4 linked regions of the Homo sapiens genome follow. The protein of the gene in region 1 interacts with the protein of each later gene in a pairwise test. Each region holds a gene or a part of one and is shown in the gene's direction. Other genes may lie near its edges. The genes, in order: BACE2, DUSP10, RFFL and RHNO1.

Evidence for each region.
Region 2: the proteins of BACE2 (region 1) and DUSP10 interact in binary tests that used the Homo sapiens proteins (3 or more experiments, as listed by UniProt).
Region 3: the proteins of BACE2 (region 1) and RFFL interact in binary tests that used the Homo sapiens proteins (3 or more experiments, as listed by UniProt).
Region 4: the proteins of BACE2 (region 1) and RHNO1 interact in binary tests that used the Homo sapiens proteins (3 or more experiments, as listed by UniProt).

Annotation. Positions count from the first base shown.
Region 1 is NC_000021.9:41,241,124-41,248,160, forward strand, and holds part of BACE2 (beta-secretase 2 isoform A preproprotein), read left to right. Parts: intron 1-695; coding exon 696-824; intron 825-2,252; coding exon 2,253-2,387; intron 2,388-4,838; coding exon 4,839-4,940; intron 4,941-7,037. UniProt on the Homo sapiens protein: Responsible for the proteolytic processing of the amyloid precursor protein (APP).
Region 2 is NC_000001.11:221,704,086-221,711,122, reverse strand, and holds part of DUSP10 (dual specificity protein phosphatase 10), read left to right. Parts: intron 1-4,656; coding exon 4,657-5,028; intron 5,029-7,037. UniProt on the Homo sapiens protein: Protein phosphatase involved in the inactivation of MAP kinases. Has a specificity for the MAPK11/MAPK12/MAPK13/MAPK14 subfamily. It preferably dephosphorylates p38.
Region 3 is NC_000017.11:35,060,700-35,068,619, reverse strand, and holds the start of RFFL (E3 ubiquitin-protein ligase rififylin), read left to right. Parts: upstream 1-4,912; 5' UTR 4,913-5,044; intron 5,045-7,920.
Region 4 is NC_000012.12:2,887,211-2,890,049, forward strand, and holds the end of RHNO1 (RAD9, HUS1, RAD1-interacting nuclear orphan protein 1), read left to right. Parts: intron 1-700; coding exon 701-1,249; 3' UTR 1,250-2,314; downstream 2,315-2,839. UniProt on the Homo sapiens protein: Involved in microhomology-mediated end-joining (MMEJ) DNA repair by promoting recruitment of polymerase theta (POLQ) to DNA damage sites during mitosis.

The DNA of each region.
Region 1 (7,037 bases):
CTTCCCGCTTCCCTTTGAGTCTCTCTGGAGAAATGAGGGCATCCTCTGTATGTCTTGCTGGATGTGAGGGAGACACAGAGCACACGAGGGCTTCTGAAATCTGGCCTTGGGGGAATAAGAAGCCTTTTATGCTTCTGGAGTATAGATTTGTGCCTTTCCTGCTTCTTTCCTGCCAGAGTTCATCTGGCAGAGCTAAGCCTCACCCCAGGCTCTGGGGTCCGGGGGATACTGTCCTCCCAGGTCAGCCACCTCTCATTTGCATGGTGGACAGCTGCGGCTGACAGGCAAACAAAGATGTCTGCGGCCATGGCAGCTCCTAGAGAAACTCTTCTCTCCTTACTCTCAAATGCCTAAGATTAGGATCCACCACCTGCCACGGTAACCTACTTCCACGGCTTCTCACACCCCCTCACAAGGCAGTCATGATGATAGATGTGACTGCGTCGAATGGCTTCCAGAAATATGATCTTATTTGTACAACAGAGCCGTGCCCAAAGGAAGAATGCCAACCAGTGGGAAGCTCTGCTGGGGCTTTCTGAATTCCTAGACCCAATCACAAGCTGGTGTACTGTTGAACCATGAAAAAATTGAGTATAAACACCAGGAATGTCTGTGGCGCGTGGCGTCTACACTGGGTGACCCATGTCTACACTGTGAGTCCTAAGCGGGTGCCCCTCTCTGTCGCCCTCCCGCAGCCATCAAGTTCTCTGGAGACCTTCTTCGACTCCCTGGTGACACAAGCAAACATCCCCAACGTTTTCTCCATGCAGATGTGTGGAGCCGGCTTGCCCGTTGCTGGATCTGGGACCAACGGAGGTAGTCTTGTGGGTATCTTTTAGTCTTAAAGGGGCGAAAAATCACAGATGGATGGGCTGTTTTTTTCTGTTTTATTAAACACCTGAGCAGAAATATTAGGCATGTAGGTGTGCGTAGGTACTGTAAAACTTTCATCCTCCTTGTAGTAGATCTTTTTAGAAATGGCTAAAATTAGGCAATCCTTTATGTCATCCTGCCATCTGGAAGGATGATTCTCATCGCTTCTCCGAATTCCATTAAAACTTTTCTTTACCGCCCTTGGAAGGGCACTGCTTTCTGTGGGTGGGGGAGGGACAAGTGAGGAGCGGTGGGGGGCGTGGTGAGTGGACCTGACTGTGGGTAGGGGGCCAAAGGAGAGTTCATAAATTTGGCAGGGAAACAGGGGCCCTTGTAGATCCTTTCTCTCTCTCTCTCTCTCAACACACACAGGCACACACGCACCACAGCACAAGTGTTTGCTGCTGAAACAGAATCAAGGCCGTCAGCACTACGGAGGTGCTGGAGCCTGAGCTTCCCTCCAGGGGCCGGCACCCAGACGTCAAAAGTAGTAGGGGACAGGAAGAATGCACTAGAAGGGGGTGCTGCCAGTCCCTTTGCTGTCTGACTATGAGAGGCAGGATCTGCACCCCGGTCCTCAGCTACTTTCATTTGCTACCATTTCCAGGCAGAGGACAGCATAGGATTTATGAGGAAATGTTTTATGATTTTGCACAATGAAGCTTTGATCAGGGAAGTGCTTGATCTTCTGTTCTCTGACCTCCAAGGAACTAAATAATTGTCAGTCAGTGTGGTTAACTGTTTTATTGCATTTCTTTGAAGGAAAAATCTCAATATTGTAAAGCTAAACTTGTATGTACTTTCTTTGGATAAGAGAAACCTCCAAAGCATCTTGATTAGATGAGGGCCTAATACCATCTGACCTTTGCAGACGTGGACCCATAAAATTCCTTGTTTTATTTTATTTTATTTTATTTCATTTATTATTATTTTTTTTAGATGGAGTCTCGCTCTGTCGCCCAGGCTGGAGTGCAGTGACGCGATCTCAGCTCACTGCAGCCTCCGCCTCCCTGTTCAAGCGATTCTCCTGCCTCAGCCTCCTGAGAAGCTGGGACTACAGGTGCGCGCCACCTTGCCCGGCTAATTTTTGTATTTTTAGTAGAGATGGGGTTTCACCATGCTAGCCAGGCCGTTCTCGAACTCCTGACTTCATGATCCGCCCACCTCAGCCTCCCAAAGTGCTGGGATTACAAGCGTGAGCCACCGCGCCTGGCTCCTTGTTTATTTTTTAAGCATTGATATTTGTTTCATGACATTGTCACGAAGTAGAAGCCCTGATTGCAGTGAAGTTTCTCTTTACAAGTGCATGCTTCTCTGTGTAACCTGTTGATATGTCTGTGTATTTTTTCTCTTATACCTGTAAATATTTCCTGTCCCAGGTCTTGGGTGGAATTGAACCAAGTTTGTATAAAGGAGACATCTGGTATACCCCTATTAAGGAAGAGTGGTACTACCAGATAGAAATTCTGAAATTGGAAATTGGAGGCCAAAGCCTTAATCTGGACTGCAGAGAGGTATTTATGCTATGGTCTCTGTTGTGTCTTTCTGTGTATGTCTGGGTCCCTTAAATATGCCAGCTGGAACCCGTAGATGCCAATAGAAGGTACATTACCTCGTAAGATAAAGGCTCATTACATGAAAAGATGCAGGGCCTTGCTGTACAGTAAGTTGAAATCAATTAATTGTCCTCCCTCCCCACCCCAAATATTGCATCCTCCCAACCACTTATCTTCATAGGGCAAAATTACCATTAAATGGTGAGTGAAGAGGACTATCTGAGCTACACCTTTCACCATTCATTCATCTTGGATTGATGGTCCCTAAGCTCAGTTTAAGAGGTTGAAATAAACAGATTTTTAATCAGTGTAGGACAGAGAAGGACGAAAATTAAGCAAAATGAAACCGAAAAGATCATCAGCTTTTATCCTCCATTCACAGCTAGCCTGGCCCCCAGAGTACCCAATTCTCCCTAAAAAACGGTCATGCTGTATAGATGTGTGTGGCTTGGTAGTGCTAAAGTGGCCACATACAGAGCTCTGACACCAAACCTCAGGACCATGTTCATGCCTTCTCACTGAGTTCTGGCTTGTTCGTGACACATTATGACATTATGATTATGATGACTTGTGAGAGCCTCAGTCTTCTATAGCACTTTTAGAATGCTTTATAAAAACCATGGGGATGTCATTATATTCTAACCTGTTAGCACTTCTGTTCGTATTACCCATCACATCCCAACATCAATTCTCATATATGCAGGTACCTCTTGTCACGCGCGTCCATGTAAGGAGACCACAAAACAGGCTTTGTTTGAGCAACAAGGTTTTTATTTCACCTGGGTGCAGGTGGGCTGAGTCTGAAAAGAGAGTCAGTGAAGGGAGACAGGGGTGGGTCCACTTTATAAGATTTGGGTAGGTAGTGGAAAATTACAATCAAAGGGGGTTGTTCTCTGGCTGGCCAGGGTGGGGGTCACAAGGTGCTCAGTGGGAGAGCCTTTGAGCCAGGATGAGCCAGAAGGAATTTCACAAGGTAATGTCATCAGTTAAGGCAGGGACTGGCCATTTTCACTTCTTTTGTGGTGGAATGTCATCAGTTAAGGCAGGAACCGGCCATTTTCACTTCTTTTGTGATTCTTCACTTGCTTCAGGCCATCTGGACGTATAGGTGCAGGTCACAGTCACAGGGGATAAGATGGCAATGGCATAGCTTGGGCTCAGAGGCCTGACACCTCTGAGAAACTAAAGATTATAAAAATGATGGTCGCTTCTATTGCAAATCTGTGTTTATTGTCAAGAGGCACTTATTTGTCAATTAAGAACCCAGTGGTAGAATCGAATGTCCGAATGTAAAACAAAATACAAAACCTCTGTGTGTGTGTGTGTGTGAGTGTGTGTGTATGTGTGTGTGTGTGTATTAGAGAGGAAAAGCCTGTATTTGGAGGTGTGATTCTTAGATTCTAGGTTCTTTCCTGCCCACCCCATATGCACCCACCCCACAAAAGAACAAACAACAAATCCCAGGACATCTTAGCGCAACATTTCAGTTTGCATATTTTACATATTTACTTTTCTTACATATTAAAAAACTGAAAATTTTATGAACACGCTAAGTTAGATTTTAAATTAAGTTTGTTTTTACACTGAAAATAATTTAATATTTGTGAAGAATACTAATACATTGGTATATTTCATTTTCTTAAAATTCTGAACCCCTCTTCCCTTATTTCCTTTTGACCCGATTGGTGTATTGGTCATGTGACTCATGGATTTGCCTTAAGGCAGGAGGATCAGGTCACCCAGGACTCATTCCATCCCTGGGTAGACTTGCCTATGCAGCTGTGCCCGTAGTGGTTGGGGTGGCTCATCTGGTGTTGGCCACTGGTGTCCATTCTCCTCCCTCTGCCACATGAAGAACATTGCAGGTGAGGACAGGGCTGGCAGCGCCTGTGTGTGTCTCAGTCTATGATGCACTGTGGCCCTGGTTCTGTTCCCAGTGCAAATATGGGATGTCTGTTGAAAAATTGTCCATCCTTCTCTTCGTTAGTGAGGTCATAGAGAATTGATTTGTGTACAGTTTGTACAAATGGCTTTTAATATATTTCAGCCTCAAAAGACAAATAGGTCTTCCCTCTGCCCTGGGGCAGGAGTGCAGGTCCTCAATGAAGGAACTTGGGCACCTCTGAGTAAGGAAAGAGCTGTGCCTTGGGAGGGCTATTGATTTGCTAATTTGGGCCGTGTCCCCTCCCTTTCCTGGGTCCATTTCCTTGTCTCTGAAGTGAGCGTGTTGGGTTGGAAGACCCCTGGTTCCCCAGTTCTGAGAACATGAATGAACTACACAGTCCATGATGACTGGTGTGGCTGCCTGGATTTGTGTGTAACAGACAGATGGTGATGGCGGCTAGAGCCACGTGGGGCGGGGAGCGCCACTGTCACTCACGCACCTTTCCCTTTCTCTCCCGGTTCAAGTATAACGCAGACAAGGCCATCGTGGACAGTGGCACCACGCTGCTGCGCCTGCCCCAGAAGGTGTTTGATGCGGTGGTGGAAGCTGTGGCCCGCGCATCTCTGGTGAGTCCTCGGGACACTCACGGGTCCCCGAGTTGCTGAGTTACAGTCACCTGCTGAGGAGCAGCACTGCGTGTTCTGAGCATCTCTGAACTATTGCGCCATGTATTTCCAATTTTCATATTGTGTATTTGTATATTTTATATGTAATAGTATAGGTGTAATATGTAAATATATTTTATATGTATTTAAAATCTTTATATTTTGAAGGGTTTTGTTTCAACTATTACTTGTTAATTTCACAGTCCCTTTCTTTGATGTTAGCAAATAGTACCTTCATGAACCTCAGAGGACTTGGATCTGAATGTGCAATGCCCTCTAGTATTTCAAATAATAGTTCAGTTGGTATAGTATTTTTTTAATCTGCAAAAAACAATACTTGCTAATATAGCTATGTTAGAGTAAACAATAAATCGAGAATAAATTTATAGCCTTTGAAACAAAACAAACCAAAAATTTTACTCCTTTTTGGCTTTCATCCCTGCACTGGTATCTTAACTTCTGTTTGTATAAAAGAATACCATTTTTTCACAGAAGACAAAGAACAATCAGCCAATCTAATAATTATTTTATGGCCATGCTCTGAAATACAATTAAAATTATGATTGTGGACAATATGCCTTTTCGGGACCTGGCTGATGGTATTTCTGGTGTGACCCCAACTTTCCAGTCAGTTCAGGGCAATAAACATTGGATACAGGACAGCTTTGGGGATGAAATAGAATTAAATTTAGTGTAGTTTTTGCCACTTTTAGCTGGATGCCTGGCGAGGGGTTTTGTGCCCTCTGAGAGCCTCCGTCTTCTCAACTGAGGGGTGGTTGTGAGTTTTGGGTCAAATGCTTGGTGTTTAGTAGATGCTTGGAGCTTCCATGAAACATGCAACCACGGCGTTGCTGCTATTTGTTCAGATGCGAGAGGAACATGACTTTTGGCTGCCTGAGTGTTCTCATAGCATCTGGGCCTTCCTTGTGAGATCGTCAGAAAGTGTTTCCTGCACAAAGCCTGTACTGCGGCCCTGGCGTGGGGCTGATTGTCCCGCTACTCTGCTGTGATGGCTGAATTCAAAGAGTGGCCGATAGGAGCACGTATGGTGGGTGCCTTGTTAACAGCTCATAGCAGAAACGTGACAAGCGGGAGAGGGCTTTGGGTTGTCCTGAACTTCAAACACCTGTAACTGCTGCGGGAAGAGCGGCACGTGGATGAAACGGACACAGAGGGGGAATAGGCAGGAAAGGACGCGGGCTCTTTTCGAAGCAGCAGGTCTCAAGGCGGCCAGCCACTGGCGCAGCTGCAGCTGAAGCCACGGCAGAGTCTCCATCCTTCCCACTATCTGCTGAATCAGAGAAAGTGGCAGGCAACATTTTTAGTGCCTTAAATTTAGAACGCTTGCTCAAAATCAGACCCTACTTAAAATAAGGAGCGATACCCTCATTTCTTAAATAGTAAAAATGCCCTCAGCAGAATTAACGGGAGTATCTTCCAACTTCATATCCTGAATGGAAAAGTCTGTCCACCATCCCGAGGACGTGTTTGAAGCGCAGTGTGAAAATCCAGCACGTCGTGGACCGGCCAGACCCCTGTGCCGTGAGAGGCGGGGCGGCGGGGCCGTGGGGCGCTCGCACTCCCGAGCTCATCGTGGCATGCGCTGAGCCGAAAACCACGAGGTAGAGGGAATGAGATCACAACATTTGTTTGCGTTGTCTAAAATTATCCTCTGATTTCATTCGGTGCCTGCGTCAGGAGGGAGAAACATGGGAAGGTTGTTTGTCTTGGGCAGGGAAAGCATCACAAGGGCGCGTTGTGTGTCTGGCTTACCGTCTCTGGACCAAAGCTGTGTTTGTTTTTCTTATCTACCAGTTCCAGTAAGCCAAACCTCTTGGCGTGGGTTTCCTTCTGGTTAAGGGGAGGGCTGGCTTCAGAGAGTGAAAGACAATAAAAACGTGGAGCTCTGTCCCCTGGCATGGATTGTTCAGATGGGATTCTAGAAATTAAGGGTTTGGAGTTCTGTATTTAGAAATGAACCTGGAGCGGGGAGTGTTGTACAAGGTGCAGCCCATGCAGAGGCACCGAGACCTGGGCTCGTTCCGACCCTGCCGCAGT
Region 2 (7,037 bases), on another chromosome or scaffold:
CTGAACTGACCGTGTGTTAGAAGAAACTGGCAGGCAGTATTTCCACATATAGTTCTTTAGGGGTGCTAGGTATTCTTTGTTGCTGCCATTTAGAATCAATGTACTGACCATACTCATTTTGGCAGAGAACCTACTTTTGACATAAGCTTTGAAAATGTTTGCTGCCCCCCCACCCCGCCTTGCCTCACCCTACCCCAGCATTGTTGCTCATGGCTACAATATGTTCGCACTAATAACTGCAGGCTCTTGTGCACATAAGGAAGTTAGCCACCTTGGTAGAAATTAGAGGAAAGGAAGAAGGAGGGAAGAACAGTTTTATTTTCAAAATCCAATTCTGTGGAAAAACCAGAAATGCAAAGACAGTGTTTGTTAGGAAAGCTAGGACCAACAAAGTGAAATCAGATATATTTGTTTAGGAAAAATAGGGAGCTGTTGCTTTCTTTATGTTAAAAGTATGTTTTGCAAACTTTAAAACTGCTCGGATACCTTGGTTCCTAATTCTTTTTTGTTAAATAAAATTTTAAAAGTAAAAACTCAGGAACATTAGTTTACTTATATAGAGTCTTTATATTAAGCAGATTTTTTTTTTTTTAGATCTTTAAAATGGTAGTTTCCCAAAGTGATGAAAAGAAAAAGCACTTACAATGTGCTGGACATTGTTTTAAGGTACTTTATTAACCACTTTAATCATTACAACAGTACAGTGAGGTAGGTACTATTGTTATCCCTGTTTTGTATACAGGGAAACTGAGGAACAGACAGGTGAGAAACCTGCCCAGGGTCTCATAGCTAGTGTTTGGCTGTGCTGGGGATTCAAACCCAAGAAGTCCAGCCTCAATACTCCTTCTCTGAATCACTGCACTGCACTTAGGGCTCTCATGGACTATGCGTGTGCATAGATCTGTTGGAATTTAGAACAAAGGTGATGATATTGGGGGTAATAAGACATTATTTATCGAATACCTGGTCGTGTATCAAAACCTTTACATAGGCTTCCTGAACTATGACCCTGATGGGTAGATGATATTACATCCACTTAATAGATTGGTAAACTGAGGCTTAATGAGGGAACCTGACTTGCACAGGGTCTCACAGCTGCTAGGAGGCAGAATCATAACTGCAGCTAGGTGTGGTTTGTCTCTGACCTTTGCTCTTAACCTCCATGCTACACTGCTCCTGCTTTGTTTGTTAATTATCATGTTCTAATATTCTTAAATAGTAATAAACATAACATCATCAGGGTTCCTCATTAAGTGATCAGTCACTTTGGCCTCTGGTGATACTTGATGGGGTAGGGTCGGAGGAAAGTAACTGGAAAAGAAAAACCAGATTAGCTTTACTCTTCCCCCTCCCCTCCAGATTTCAATTTCAACCCTTCCCCAAGAGAAGAAAACAATCCTTCCTGCAGACTTCTCTGGAAAAAGCCACCACTGTGAGCTTCCACTCGTTGTTTTTTACTTTAAGCACCGTCCACAGAGAGAGTTTTTAACTGCAGTACAGAGCTGTGCATAAGCCTTATGGAAAACTGATGCCCAAGTTGATTAGCAGAGTGGCAGTTGAACAGGAGACTATTTCTTCAGACCCCTCAAGGAGAATTTCCTTGTTTACCTTATATGTTTAAATTGTAATATCTCCTTTTCTCTCCACCCCCACCCCTCCCACCTCCAAATATTATAAGAACAGAGTTCCTACATGGCTTAAACATACAATGCACCCATACTTTTGCACATAAGCATGCTCTGTGATTTGGAGCATTCTGTGTGTCTGTCTCAAATTCCCTCCTCCCCCCACTCCGCCACGGGTTTTTTTCCCCCCATTAGGCAAATGGAAGGCCCATGCCACCTGTTAGCATTACATCATTGGCTCCCCAGAACACAGTTGCACCAAAGGCCTTAAACAAAGTAGTTCTTCTTGTATTGTTTGCACTCAAAGAGCTGATATCATGCCAACTGATGTCATTGTATGTCTTTGTGTAACTGCTATGGCAACTGGGCAGGTGGGGAGCCTCCAGCTGATGTCATTGAGAAAGGAGGTGTAGAGGCAGAATTTTAAAAAGCTGGACGCTGCTTTTTTCTGTGTGTGGGGTTTTCTAGCATGTGTTGGTTTTTTTTTTTTTTTTTAAACTAGCTGCTTTTAAGACAAATTACAGCTTGAGTACCCTAAATAAGAACAGAGAGGTTTTTCCCCTGCTTTTAGAGCCTTCTTTTGAATTTGTTTTATTGTTCTTCCCTCTCATCTTATATGGAAAAATGTAACAACTGCCTTTTTTGAAGAAAAAAGTGAATTAGGTTCCCATCACAGAATCTGTGTGGAATTTGGGTTTTTGTGGAGGCGAAGCTGAGCAGATTTTAACTCTTCAGAATCCCTTTTGTGGAGGCTGTGATGATGACAATGGGTAGTTTTTATCTTATTTATTTTTTAAGTCTTCACTGGTGAAGTTATTTTCCATATTTTCTTTCTTCTACTTCAGAATTATCTCTTCAGGTTCAAACTTTATTGTCATAATTGCCTAGCAGAATAAACTATCATATGTAAGGGCAGAGGTTAATTCTAGAAATCAACTGAAATTCGTATATAGCTCTTGTTTTTCTTTTCAAAAAGCTAGGGTAGGTTTTGACTTCTTACTTTCAATGAGTAAAGTGAACATAATATTGCCCTTTGAGTTTTCTTTGGATCATAACCATACCTTAAGGAAAATATGATTTCTCTCTTTTACACAGCCAGCTCCGGGTCCATTGGTTGTGAAAAGTCATGAGACTCGGTCTAGGTTATGGTCTGGAGTTTCCCGCTGTGGTTTGTCAAAGATGAGACTTGAAATGGAGAAGAACATATGCCAGGCTCAGAGGCTAGTGGACAGATAGACTTCCTGTCCTTATTGCAACATAACCGTCTCTTGTTCATGCTTTGGGTTTTCTGCCTTATCTCCTGGAACTATCAAGACAGCCACAAGCCATCTGTCTTTGAGGGTAGATGTTGTGTTCTGGTGGCTTTCAGCTAATAGGACTTTTCCACTTCCCCCTCTTTTCAAAGGGAAAGCCAGAGTGTATCTAGTTCTGTTTGAGTAGGGTTAGAGCTCAGTTGGCACTAATAATGTCAATCCAGATTTTATAGCACTTACATGTATATTATTATAATTTGAGCTTTGTAATAATCCTTTGGGTTTATCTGTGCATGCCATTGTGTGTAAAAATATTAGCAGAAAATTTAAACAATAAACTATGATCCGTAAATTCCCTAATTTAAACAATTGTTCGTTTTTTGTACAGTTCTTCAGCTTTTGGTCAATGTTTTTTACTTAGCTTTTAAAAAATTTAATATTAAACCAAAATGTTTTATTTATTTTCACATCCTTTTTGCAACTACTCTTTTAAAGGCTACATAATACTCCGTGGAATGAATGTAATAACTTTTTTTCTTTTATTTTTGTGTTTTACTTGGCCTTTTTAAAATATATATAAAACAGATAACATTGTAGTGAACATCTCCATATATCTAGCTAACTATCTTTGGTTAGATGATTTCCCTAAGATCCATTCCCAAAAGTGAGATTGCACTTGTTCAGGGGAAGGTTTGCATTTTAAAAATGGAGAAATAAGCACAGTTTATAAGCTTTTTATACTAGACCCATAACTCGTGGGAGGCAGAGCAGAGCCGTAAGCTCAAAAGCATGCATTCACACATCCAAAAGAGGTTTCTTGATGGGTTTATGTGCCCACAAGCCTTGGAAAGTCGAGGAGTAAGCAACCGCGCTGCTCTCACATTCTGTTCTACTGAAAGTCAGGGTTGATAAATGTCAGGGCCCTACGTGGAGAATATCAAAAAAGATTATAAGAGCAGTCCTTCACACCCCACCCTGGCTTGTCTTTTCCAAGTACTTCTCTGCTGATTTCACCTGTGGGCAATCATATAAATAATATAAATTAAAATAGTGAATGCCTGCTGAGTTCTACTGTGTGCCAGGAGATGTGCTAAGTATTTTACACGTATTCATTTATCTCAGGCTCACAATTGCACTCAAAGGGAGACACCATCACCCTCAGTTTACAGATGGTGGAACTGAAGCACAGAGATAAATGAACTTAAGTAATAGTGTCAGGAAATGATGGTACCCAGATTATAATCAAGATAACCTGTCTCTTCCAATGTTCCTGCTTGTAACCACTCTGCTGTATTGGGAGCAAACTTGTCCCTCTGGGTGAGGTGAGCTATGAAGGGTGCAAGACATGCTCCTGTGGTGCTGAGATTCCACCCGAGGAGGTCATCTGTGCCTTTCTTGGCTCCCAAAGCACAGGGTTCTATGTAGGCCACTGAGCATATGGCTCTTTGAGGCAGGTCACATTTGCAGCTGAGGAAGATTGCCTGATGCCGCGTGGAACTCTTGCTAGGGGAACATGCCCTCATTTGTAGAAAGAGCACATTTCCAAAGTGTTCCATGCAGTGATACTCCCCGAAGCTTGTCTTGGGTCTCCAAATGGACTTTTAGTTTTTGTTTTGTTTTGTTTTATTTTTATTTTTATTTTTTTTGCTTAAATACATATTTATATATGTATTTAAAATATGCATGAGCTACAATGCAAACTCATTCTAATGGGGAGGTGGCATTCTCTGCCAGCTCTGAAATCTCAGTCACACTCACCTTCTGTGTTTGTGTTCTAGGTGGACTTAGTAGTTTTAAGCAGAACCATGAAAACCTCTGTGACAACTCCCTCCAGCTCCAAGAGTGCCGGGAGGTGGGGGGCGGCGCATCCGCGGCCTCGAGCTTGCTACCTCAGCCCATCCCCACCACCCCTGACATCGAGAACGCTGAGCTCACCCCCATCTTGCCCTTCCTGTTCCTTGGCAATGAGCAGGATGCTCAGGACCTGGACACCATGCAGCGGCTGAACATCGGCTACGTCATCAACGTCACCACTCATCTTCCCCTCTACCACTATGAGAAAGGCCTGTTCAACTACAAGCGGCTGCCAGCCACTGACAGCAACAAGCAGAACCTGCGGCAGTACTTTGAAGAGGCTTTTGAGTTCATTGGTAACTATCTCCCATAGGGAATTTTCATCCGCTGCCTTCCTTTTCCCTCCAGCTCTTGCTTTGATATCAAGTTCAAGGTTTATTCCTGTGTTGGAAAAGAAAAGCTGCCCTGGAGTTTTGGAGGGCTCTGCCACCTGAAACAGCCTAAGCATTCTCCTAAGTCATAGCCTGTCGAGTGTATCCAAGCCATCAGGATGGATATAAAAGGACAGTAATTGAATTTGTTGGGATCTGTTCAACTAGAAATCCTCATCCCTCAAGTTCTCAGTGAAATAGTGGTAGGGGTTAGCATTTATGTGCTCTGTAACCAGAAAAGTGGATGGAAAGTAAGGAATCGGAGGTCAGAGCTGGTGCTACTGCTACTTGATCTACTAGCGCCGTTGAGCACCTTGGAAGCAATATCTAGTGAATATGACACCCCTTCCAAACATACCTATGCCTTCCGGTCACCCTACTAAGCCTTATTCATCCAGCATAAGGGGAGATGGTACTAGGTTTCCTTTGACAGTCTGCCCCAAACTCATTGAACTAGGAAAGATCAGGTTGTGTAGACGGAGTAGTTCCCAAGGAGGAAGTTTTAGCAACAGCACGCTTTGATCCCCAGAAGGAAGCAACTATTAGCCTAATCCTAATCTTAATTTCTGCAACTTCTATAGCCCCAAACTGCTATAAGACTCAAAATATCGCCGGGCGCGGTGGCTCATGCCTGTAATCCCAGCACATTGGGAGGCCGAGGCGGGTGGATCACCTGAGGTCAGGAGTTTGAGACCAGCCTGACCAACATGGAGAAACTCCATCTCTACTAAAAAAATACAAAATTAGCCAGGCGTGGTGGTGCATGCCTGTAATCCCAGCTACTCAGGAGGCTGAGGCAGGAGAATCGCTTGAGCCTGGGAAGCGGAGGTTGCAGTGAGCTGAGATCACGCCACTGCACTCCAGCCTGGGCAACAACAGTGAAACTCTGTCTCAAAAAAAAAAAAAAACACTCAAAATATCATTTTGGGAGCACCTGCAATATAGCAAAACTCAACATTTATTTTTTTTTACGTAACTTCAACTTTTATTACCATAAAGGGGTGGCCTAGTACTTTTCCTAAATATTACAGCAGGTTGTTATTCCAGGAAGAATACAGTTAAGTGGAGTGGGGTGTTCCTTTGTCAGAGAAAGAAAAAAACAGCCTCAGGTTTAACAGCCAGTGGGGTCTGGTGGATTTGCTGTAGTGTTGACATCTCTGGTCATTTTGCCAAGCTGTTTTCCTTGCTAATTATGCCGTCAGCACAGGACCATGGAATATTGAGTCTGAAAGGAAATTCAGGGTGATCACTGAACTTAGAGAAGTAAAGTGACTTCTTCAAGGTCATAGGAATTCTAGTGTCCAAGAAGGGGCCAGAATCCAGGGTTTTTGACTCCCAAGCCTGAGGCCTTTTCACAACACACTAAGGCAATGTTTATGATGCCCTATTAAGTAATTCCCAACTGGCAACACTGAGGATGCAGAGATACTGCAGATTCTTTATTAATAAAATCTGAGCCAAACCTGGAGCGCTGAGGAAGAAAAATTTCTCAACAAGCATATGAGGAACTTCTGGTTGATACATGATGTGATGTTATGACTGAGATTCCATCTGACTTAACTCCAGTTGGAGGAAGTTAGGAAATTGTTTTCTATTTAATGAGTAGGGTAAGATATACTTGTTCTAAGAGGATTTCAACTAAAGCTCCTTCTCACATTCCTTATAGATTATTCAGGCTTACCTGCCTTTTTTTTTTTTTTTTTAAGGAAAACAAAACCAATAACAAATAGCATTCAGCCCGAAGAACAACTCCATATCACAACCTGCATAGGCACAATTTTATTTTCATTGTTATATTATTGGATAAACTGAAATCTTACAGTCTTGCTTTAGTAAAAACACAGCAGGTTTTATAAACATAATAGCTTTCACTGAGAGTGTAATATAAGCTGAGCAGCATCTAAGTTTAGTGTTTATACCAGTTTATTTATTCC
Region 3 (7,920 bases), on another chromosome or scaffold:
TAGTGGATAATAAAGTACTCACAATTGCATTATAGAATAGATTCTGGTAACTGCACCAGTGGGGACAGACTGGGTTAGCATGCCCTCACACAACTGGGGGGTTGTTTTGCAGCAAAGTGCTGTGAAGCAGGTTGAGCCTCATGCAGTGCCAGTTCCTGTATCTAAATGTGAAAGTGGCTTGTTAAAGATTAAAGGGACTGCCTGGTCCTTCTGGCCCCAAGATGGAATGATCTCTGCCATGGCGACAGCCTCTATCTCCCAGGAGAGGCCATTTTATACAGCACATTTGTGCTTCCAAATGTTACTGTAAGCCTGCACTGGCTGATACTCTGGCGATAAGTTGACATTTGGGCACTCTCAAGACATATGAGCTATATAGCATCCCATGGTTTGAATTTCTGGGCAAAATTGGCTCATCAGGAAGTCAAAAGCCTCTACTTTCAACCTGTTCCTTTGGGTTTTCTCCTTTGTTTTATTTGACTATTCTGTTGAGTCAAATGAACTTTAATTTTTAGCCATAAAAATTCCATTAAGCCCCTTGTATCATATCCAGGTGTGAAAATGTCTCAGTATAACAAGACTGTGGGTGACAGGTGAAATCCTTAATGGTAGTTAGGATAATTGTCTCTGAAGGCTTGAAGAAAATAATGGTCCAACCAACAAAGTGAATACAGTTTGTATTTTTTGTGGTTCTTGTGGGTGAGCGGACTTATGTTTAGGACCTGCTCAGTGTGACTACTGTTCAGCTTGGAGGTCTTTGAAAAAACTTTTTTTCATTTTACTCTAAACAGTGCTTAGGGAACATAGCTGTGTCCTTTTTCTCAAAACATGATCCAAGGCCCATCTGTATCAGAATTGCTTGGAAGGCCGGGCGCAGTGGCTCACACCTATAATCCCAGCACTTTGGGAGGCTGAGACGGGCGGATCACTTGAGGCCAGGAGTTCAAGACCAGCCTGGCCAACATGGCGAAACTCCGTCTCTACTAAAAATACAAAAATTAGCCAGGCCTGGTGGTGCATAGTAATCCCACCTACTTGAGAGGCTGAGGCAGGAGAATCGCTTGAACCCGGAGGTGGAGGTTGCAGTGAGCCGAGAAATTGTGCCACTGCACTCCAACCTGGGCGACAGAGCGAGACTCTGTCTCAAAAAAAAAAAAAAAAAAGGCTTGGAAGAGAGAGATACTTATTAAAAATTCAGTTTTGGCCAGGCATGGTGACTCACGTCTGTAATTCTAGCACTTTGGGAGGCTGAGGCAGGTGGATCACCTGAGGTCAGGAGTTCGAGACCAGCCTGGCCAACATGGCAAAACTCTGTCTCTACTTAAAATACAAAAATTAGCCAGACATGGTGGCATACGCCTATAATCCTAGCTACTTGGGAGGCTGAGGAAGGAGAATTGCTTGAACCCAGGAGGTGGAGGTTGCAGTGAGCTGAGATTGCACCATTGCACTCCAGCCTGTGCGATGAGAGTGAGATTCCGTCTCAAAAAAAAAAAAAAAAAATTCAGTTTCTGGGGCCTCCCTCCATGTCTGCTAATTCAGAGTGTCTGAGGGACTGGGATGAGAAATGTTCATTTTCAATAAGCACCCCTGTTGATTCTTAAGTACCCCTAGAGTTAATTGTTGAGTATCATAAAGTTTACTTCATTTTTCATGTTTAATTTCTGTGATTTATTAGATGATAAATATTTGGTTGCCATCATATTGTTTTTCTTAAATACTATGTTCTATAGTTAAAAAAAAAAAAAGGCTGTGAGGTCACTGAACACCAAGATTAGAATTTGGCAATCATTAATTATCAACAAGGTGAGACAGGCACTGATTCCTGGAAATGTGCATTTATCCATTCACCGACTTCTCAGTTAGAAAAAGGATGTGGACACAAGTAAGATTAATTTTGTTAAAAACAAGAAATGTGCAGTATCATTTAGGATGCTGGGGGTAGGGAAGTAGATAAAAGGGAGATGTTGAGAGGAAAGAGTGTGAAGAGAGAGTAAAGCAGTTTGTAAGTGATACAAACTTTAAAATTTTAACTGAATTTTAAACTACCAAGTCATATTTGAATATATGCTTGTTGTAAAAAAATTCATGATTTTTGGGGGGTAATTTGGATAAAGCTAAACATAGCTATTTGATCTTTATTCCCATTACAGTGCTCTCCCTGCTGTGTGCATCCTCCCAGATCTTCTGTATGTATTTGGTAATTTTCTGTGGATTTGGAAGACTACAGAATCCTGAGAAATGGATATTTTAATTTCTCTTTTGAAACCTGCTTATTGTTTATAATGTCAAGATCTATTGCAGAAAAGAAAGTAAATCTGGGATGTCAATGACATCACATATGTCTGTTCAAATGAAACAATGGGCACATACACATATGCACACTCATTAAATATCTGTTGAGACCACCCTATTAAAAAAAGCATAAATAGTTTTGGGTGTTAAGTTACTTGAGTTTTAAAATAACGTATTTTCTGTTTTTGTTGTTTTTTGTTTTGAGATGGAGTCTCCTTCTGTCGCCTGGGCTGGATTGCAGTGGCGCAATCTCGGCTCTGCAACCTCTGTCTCCTGGGTTCAAGTGATTCTCCTGCCCCAGCCTCTAGAGTAGCTGGGGTTAGAGGTGTATGCCACCATGCCTGGCTAATTTTAAAATAATGTATTGAAAGAACTTAGTCAGAAAGCCACAGTTATTATTTCTCCCATAGCCTCATATTCTCATAATTTTCATGTAACCTCATAAATCCTCAAGTGCCTGAAACCACTAGTTCAAACGAGTACCTTTTTAAGCTCTAAAATGTAATCCTCAACCTTTCCACTTTAAAAGGAAGAACTAGGATGGAGTGTGGCTATAATTTGGGGCAGTTGGTTAAAACTGTATCAGAGTCCCAAAGAGGGGAATGATAAGCTGCAGCAGCTCTGTTCACTTGCTCAATGGTGTTTCTCTTAGTCAACTTAGGAGTTCCATGCCTTTGGCCTTCAGGCTGCTCTTTATATAGTTCGTATCTGTCTCCTGGGCATAGTACTGTCTGGATTTTCTCTTTCTTTTTTTTTTTTTTTTTTTGAGACGAAGTTTTGCTCTGTTGTTGCCCAGGCTGGAGTGCAATGGCACAATCTTGGCTGACTGCAACCTCTGCCTCCCGGGTTCAAGCGATTCTCCTGCCTCAGCCTCCCGAGTAGCTGGGATTACAGGCATGTGCCACCACACCTGGCTAATTTTGTATTTTTAGTAGAGATGGGGGTTTCTCCATGTTGGTTAGGCTAGTCTTGAACTCCCGACCTCAGGTGATCCGCCCACCTCGGCCTTCCAAAGTGCTGCAATTATAGGCGTGAACCGCTGTGCCCGGCCCTCTTATTTAAAGTTCGCAAATACAGAACAGGTCAGGAGCTTTTCTAATCATTTTTTTTTTTTCTGAAGGAGGTTCCATATTTGTCTGTACCTTGAGAGTTGTTTCATACTAGAATTTGTAACTTATCATCAACTACAGAAATTTTTTTTAAAGTGTGGTTGAAGAGATAATGGTTGTCAGCTGCTATAAAGATGTGTTTATCATTCAGAAAGGACTAATTAACATGTACTATAGGGAAACTTCTTTAAACAAAGCCATTTTCTGAAAGGAAAACACTGAAGGGGAGGAAATAAAACAGGGAACATTTTATAATACCTTATCAAAGCTCAGCGTGGCTATCCTACTGGAATAATGTAATTAAGGAGAATTAAGTGAGTTGGATAAATAACTTTTTAAAACTAGCCCCTTGAATAGAAAATTAAGTAGTATAGTTTTTAAACTCAAATTCTGTCTGCACGTACATTTTAATTAACCTAACATTATTGAATGACAAGCTGAGTTGGCAGCTACATCCAGAGTTCATGCCATGTGAGACCTACCTTAAAGGATGAACGAAGCTGGGTGCAGAGGCCTCAAATGCCCTGCTAAGAAATAGCTGATGGCCTTGGGGAACTGTCATACATTTTAAGCAGGAAACAGAAGGATCTAATAGGAACTTTAGTTTCTCTCTTGTCAAATTAAAGCACACAAAAAGCAAGGACTTGATCTTTTTTTTTTTTTTTTGTATAACACCAATGTCAATTCTAGCCTGTCAGGGCAAATTCAGTAATTAATAGCTGTTGATGAGCCAGTCATTCTAGATTGATTTTTTAAATAAGCAGGCTAATAAATGAGAATTGACATAAATTTAGGGATGTCTCTTTTCAGAGCAAGTGTTAAGGTGATTTTCATAGTCTTCTGTATTCCCTATGCATCCAGTAGGTGTGATGGTAAATGATTTGGCTTTAGCATAGAGAATGTGGCAGCTGATTAAAAAAAAAAAATTCCAGTGCATCTATCTTAATGAGAGAACTTGAGTTGTCTGAAGAAATAGAGAGGTCAGAGGAGGCCTAGTGGGAAAAAAGAACAATGAGCCTGGTTAGAACTGACAAAAATTCACCCTAATGATTTGACTGGCTAATGATGACTGGGCAAGTTCCCTGAGTCCACTGACCCAGATGTTCTAATTTGTAAATGCAAAGTGACTTATTTATCAGCCTCCTGGGGAAATCTTCAGAGCTGTGAACCTGCTATGTTCAGTAATCTTGCTGGCCCCAGCCCCAGCCTGTTCTCAGATGAAATTTTAGAAACTGGCCACTGGAACTTTTTGGGTAAGGGCTCTGGAGGTGGCCAAGTTACCAGTAGTGGGGGAATGAGGTTTACCTGCCCCCAGTAATCAGCACTTGATTTAAAACAATCAGTGAGCTGCCTCTTCTTTCCTAGGTTGCAGTTGACTGCGGTTGGTTCAGGCTGAGTTGTTTGGGAAGTACAAATTTTGCCCAGCGTGAGTCAGCACTGCCCTGGGTAAACTCCCTGCTGTGTTGCAATCTTGCTTACCAAAGATACATCCCCAGGCGGCACCATTCACTTCACATGAAAGCCGCTGCTCTTGGTTCCTGAGATGATCTCATCTGAACATGGCTCCAGCGACCTCAGCCACAGGAACTAGAGACAGCTTGCTTTCTGTCGTGGCAATGTTTTGAAACTGGCAAAATCAGGTAACCTCAAACTGTTTTCTTAAGTTTCATTAGCTAGATGAAGCTGCATTAGAAACTGGGAAAATCCTGTCTTCAGAAGTGAGTCAGGTTTTTTTTTTTTTTTTTTTTTTTTTTTTTTTTGAGACGGAGTTTCACTCTTGTTGCCCAAGCTGGAGTGCAATGGTGTGATCTCGGCTCACTGCAACCTTCACCTCCCGGGTTCAAGTGATTCTCCTGCCTCAGCCTCCCAAGTAGCTGGGATTATAGATGTGCGCCACCATGCCCGGCTAATTTTGTATTTTTAGTAGAGACAGGGTTTTGCTGTGTTGGTCAGTCTGGTTTCGAACTCCCAAGCTCAGGTGATCCACCCTCCTCAGCCTCCCAAAGTGCTGGAATTATAGGCATGAGCCACGGCCCCCGGCCAGAAGTTTTCTTTCATTTGAGTTCTGGATGTGGAGTTAGGTCCAATTAAATCACTGATTATATAAATCTTAGAAAAGTAAAACGTTAGGTTTACAGCTTTATCCGTCATTTGCTCTTGTATTTTGTTTTTTTGTGTGTATCTTGTGAGAAACACTTTAGTCAAACTAAGCCATTGTTAAAGGAAAAGAAGTGAAGGCATTTGGTTGCCTTCCTAATAACTAAATATTGAGTTGTGGAGAACACTGTCTTATCAGTGAGTTTGTTCCCATATTCCTTTCTGAATTAATAGGAAGAACCTCCCTCATCTCTAATTCTACTAGGCTACTACTCTATCTCCCTCCTGCTTTTCATCGCCAAACTTTTGAGTCCTTCACCTAATCAGACTATGATATCTCTAGGTAGTCGTCACCCTCCAAATTACGTTTCTGCTCCTTATAATTCCAACAAATTGCCCACGTTCTCTTTCACCTCAGACCTTAGCATATGTAAGCGTTCTTTTACACACCTTCCCCAAGCTTAATCTGGCCAACTGGTTTCAGCCTAGAAGTCACCTCTTCCATGAAGCCTCTTCTTACTTACCAGGGTTGAGTACTCAGGAGAACCTGGTATTTACTCCAATCATAGTATGTATTGAGAATCAGGGTCTGCTTTGCTAGAATTGTATCCATGGTACGTTGCACATAGTAGGTTCTCAGTAAGGGTAGAATGAGCAAGAGCCTGTACTGTACTTTCTCAACTCTGATCCTCTCATCAACTCTTTTTTTTTTCTTCTGAGAGGAATCTTGCTCTGTCACCCAGGCTGCAGTGCAGTGGTGTGATCTTAGCTCACTGCAACCTCTGCCTTCCTGGTTCAAGCGATTCTCCTGCCTTAGCCTCCTGAGTTGCTGGGACTACAGGTACGTGCCACCACGCCCAGCTAATTTTTGTATTTTTAGTAGAGACAGTGTTTCACCATGTTGGCGAGGATGGTCTCGATCTCTTGACCTCATGGTCCACCTGCCTTGGCCTCCCAAAGTGCTGGGTTTACAGGTGTGAGCCACCGCGCCCGGCCTTGTTCATTCTTTTTATGCTCACATCTTTAAATGTGCTAAACCCTGTTGATTTTGTTGGAGTACTGTTTGATGTGTGGCTTTTCTTCATTCCCACTGTCATTGCCTTAATTTACCAGAGGTCAAAACTGGACGTTTAAAGTCAGGCTGGGCACGGTGGCTCACGCCTGTAATCCCAGCACTTTGGGAGGCCGAGGTGGGCAGATCACCTGAGGTCAGGAGTTTGAGACCAGCCTGGCTAACATGGTGAAACCCCATCTCTACTAAAAACAAAAAATTAGCTGGGCGTGGTGGCACGTGCCTATAATCCCAGTTACTCAGGATGCTGAAGCAGGAGAATCACTTGAACCCAGGAGGTGGAGGTTGCAGTGAGCGAGGATCACACCACTGCACTCCAGCCTGAGCAACAGTGAGACTCCATATCAAAAAAAAAAAAGAGTTTGAGACCATCCTGGCCAACATGGTGAAACCCTGTCTGTATTTAAAAAAAAAAAAAAAGGCACGCCACGCATGGTGGCCAGTGCCTGTGGTACCAGCTACCCAGCAGGCTGAGAAAAGAGAATTGCTTGCACCCAGGAGGTGGAGGTTTCAATGAGCTGAGATTGTGCCACTGAACTCCAGCCTAGGCACAGAAGAAGACTCCATCCCAAAAATCAATCAGTCAGCCTAAGGGCTTAAAATTTTGTGTGTGAATACTTTTAGGCACCATCAGAGAGAAGGCCTGTACTCTTCAAAGATTACGGATACCACCATTTTCTGACATCTTACACACTGAAGACTTAGCATTTTACCTGCATTGCCTCTAGGAATTTGAGTTTGTAACTCCTAGTTCAGACCCTTATCAAATGGCCACTCCTCCATAAGTCTTTCCTTGCTCCTATCTTCTCCATATTGTTGCCCAAGTTATCTTTTTAAAGTCCACATCTAATCTTTTCATTTAAGGTGCCATTTGTTCCCTGTTTTCCACTTAGCTTGACTTCTAAAAGCTTTCACAGTTGGATTCTTTCCTACATGTTGCTGTTAACCATCTCATCTCCCTCTCCCCTGGCCATTTCTCTCCTCTCCAGCTTCACTGAACTTCTCATGTTAACATTCCATGGATATACCATGTCTTTTAGGACTCTGCCTTTTCCCAATGGACTCTCCCTTCTCTAACTGGCAAGATACTCATCCCTCAGGACACTTAGTTCATATATGCATCTTCTCTGACTTCTCTGTCTTTTCTGACAGACAGCACTGTCTGTCTCTTCCACTAGACTGTTGAGTTCTTTGACTGAACTTGGTGTCCCTGGACTAGAGCTTGGCACCATCAGAGAGAGTGGCTGACGTGGATCTCCGGGCTCAAACCGTTATTCTTTGCAATATTAGAAGCTTTTTTGTTAGATGGCATGGTTTTTCATTCCTATTTGATGAACATGAGCCCAT
Region 4 (2,839 bases), on another chromosome or scaffold:
CTCATGCCTGTAATCCCAGCACTTTGGAAGGCCGGGGTGGGTGGATCACCTGAGGTCAAGAGTTCAAGGTCAGCCTGGTCAACATGGTAAAATCCTGTCTCTACTAAAAATACAAAAATTAACTGGTCGTGGTGGTGCGCACCTATATTCCCAGCTACACGGGAAGCTTAGGCAGCAGAATCGCTTGCATCAGGGAGTCGGAGGTTGCAGTGAGCAGAGACCTGCCATTGCACTCCAGCCTGGGCGACAAGAGCAAAACTCTGTCTCCAAAAAAAAAAAAAAAAAAAAAATACCTGGGCGTGGTGGCAGGCGCCTGTAGTCCCAGCTACTCGGGAAGCTGAAGCAGGAGAATCACTTGAACTGGGAGACAGAGGTTGCAATGAGCCGAGATGGTGCCGCTGCATTCCAGCCTAGACGTCGGAGTGAGACTCCATCCCAGGGGGAAGAAAAAAAGTTATATCCATATGGTGTGATGAAGTGAAAGAGACATCGTCCCCTTTCCTACACATGAGGAAGCTGAAGGCCGGAGAGATGGAATAATTTGCCCAAAGCTTCCTGTTATTATGCCATTAGACAGTTATTTTAGTTTTGTGTTCATTACTACAGTAGACCCCGATTTAAGAGTCTGGTCATCAGATACAGTTTCCTCTCTTAGGTTAGTACTTAGTTAGGCTCACCTCACTTTTTTTTTTTTTTTAAGGTATCACCTGATTTTGATACAGCAGCAGGAAGCTTGTTCCCAGCCTACCAGAAACACCAAAACCGGGCGAGACACTCAAGTCGAAAACCTACCACCTCCAAGTTTCCACATCTAACTTTTGAGAGTCCGCAATCTTCCAGTTCAGAGACATTGGGGATCCCCTTAATCCGAGAGTGCCCCAGTGAATCAGAAAAGGATGTTTCCAGAAGACCCTTAGTTCCAGTGCTCAGTCCCCAAAGCTGTGGGAACATGTCAGTGCAGGCACTTCAGAGCTTACCTTATGTGTTCATTCCACCTGATATCCAGACCCCAGAGTCATCGTCTGTGAAGGAAGAACTCATTCCCCAAGATCAGAAGGAAAACAGCCTTCTAAGCTGCACTCTTCACACTGGCACTCCTAATAGCCCAGAGCCTGGACCTGTTCTGGTTAAAGACACCCCCGAGGACAAGTATGGAATAAAGGTCACATGGAGGAGACGACAGCACCTGCTTGCTTACCTCAGGGAGAGAGGGAAGCTGAGCAGAAGCCAATTCCTTGTGAAAAGCTGACTGCCATCAGTAATCTCAATAGAAAAGAGATATGTTTTCTGGAGTCATAAAGGAATTCAATTCCTAGGGTTTTTGTTTTTGTTTTTGAGATGTAATATTGCTCTGTTGCCCAGGCTGGAGTGCAGTGGTATGATCTCACCTTACTGCAACCACCACTTCCTGGGTTCAAGCGATTCTCCTGCCTCAGCCTCCCCAGTAGCTGGGATTACAGGCACCAGCCACCATGCCTGGCTAATTTTTTTGTATTTTTAGTAGAGATGTGGTTTCTCCATGTTGGCCAGGCTGGTCTCAAAATCCTGACCTCAAGTCATCTGCTGGCCTTGACCTCACAAAGTGCTGGCCCAGCCGAGATTTGTTTTCTAAGATACTTTGTGTCATGAACAGTTCAGTTTAGTGTCATGAACTATTCACTTCATATTTTTCTTGTATTAACTGTTTAAATTTTTAAAATATCTTGTAGTAACTCTTTAAAATGTATGTAAGTAAATGGCTGCAGAAAGTTTTTTTAGAGAATCCTGCTTCCATCAGTAATACAGCAATATTACCCCATCCACTAATGGTCTTTGTTTCCTTAACCACTACTCATTAATCCTTAATCACCTCATTCAAACTAATTCATTCTGCATTTTTGAGTACCAACTCTTGTCAGGCTCAGTGGCAGCTTCTACGACCTGATGGATGGAAAAAAATCAAACTCTGTGACTCTATGGTTGACTGCCACCTCTGCAACCTTGACTCATCTGCTGAAAAGGCAAGAAGAAGAAAGGGCAGCAAGCCCTGTTTTAGGGACTACATAAGATGAGGGGAGATAAGGGGGACATAGATGAGTTCTTTAGGATTGCGTGTGTTTTGAGTTTTTGTTTCTAACTGAAGAAATCTGTCAATATTAAATAGGGTGGGAAAATGGTTTCTTAGAATAACTGTTCAACTGTGTGTAAATAAGGAAAGTTTTCAATGAGTATTACTTATTGTAATTAATGCAGAAGGACTTCCCCAGTCAACCGAATGTCTCGGCCTTTTACTCAGACAAGTAGCATCTCATTAAACCCATTCATTTAGCATTCATTCAGCTGGACCTACTGTGTCAGGTCCAGCCCCAACTAGATCAAGCAGGGATTACTGTATATTTTACAGATGGGAGTTTGATGCAGAGAATGAACCATGCACAGGTCACACAGTGAGTGCACGCTGACCCAGGCAGTGTAACGGTCCACTCTCAGCGTGTGCCTCCTAAAGTACTAACTTGTAGGTTCAAAACCAATGTGGAAACAACTTTGACCTTAGAACGCCATAAAGCCATTTGTGCAGTGACTTGTCAGGACTCAGGATGTTTTGTAGGGACTATAATGTGCATGTCGGTAGGGAGAAAGGGACTGACATTTGGGGACGGGATTTATTGGAGACAAGAGTACACATTTAGACAGGGGCTCTCACGGTGGGCTATGGATGTTTGAGGAAGGCCCACAGGAGGTAGAAAGGTAGATGGAAAGAGTCTCCAGGACGGGCCCACGCCTGTAATCCCAGCACTTTCGGAGGCTGAGGCGGGTGGATCATTTGAGGTCGGGAGTTAAGAGGCCAGTCTGGCCAACA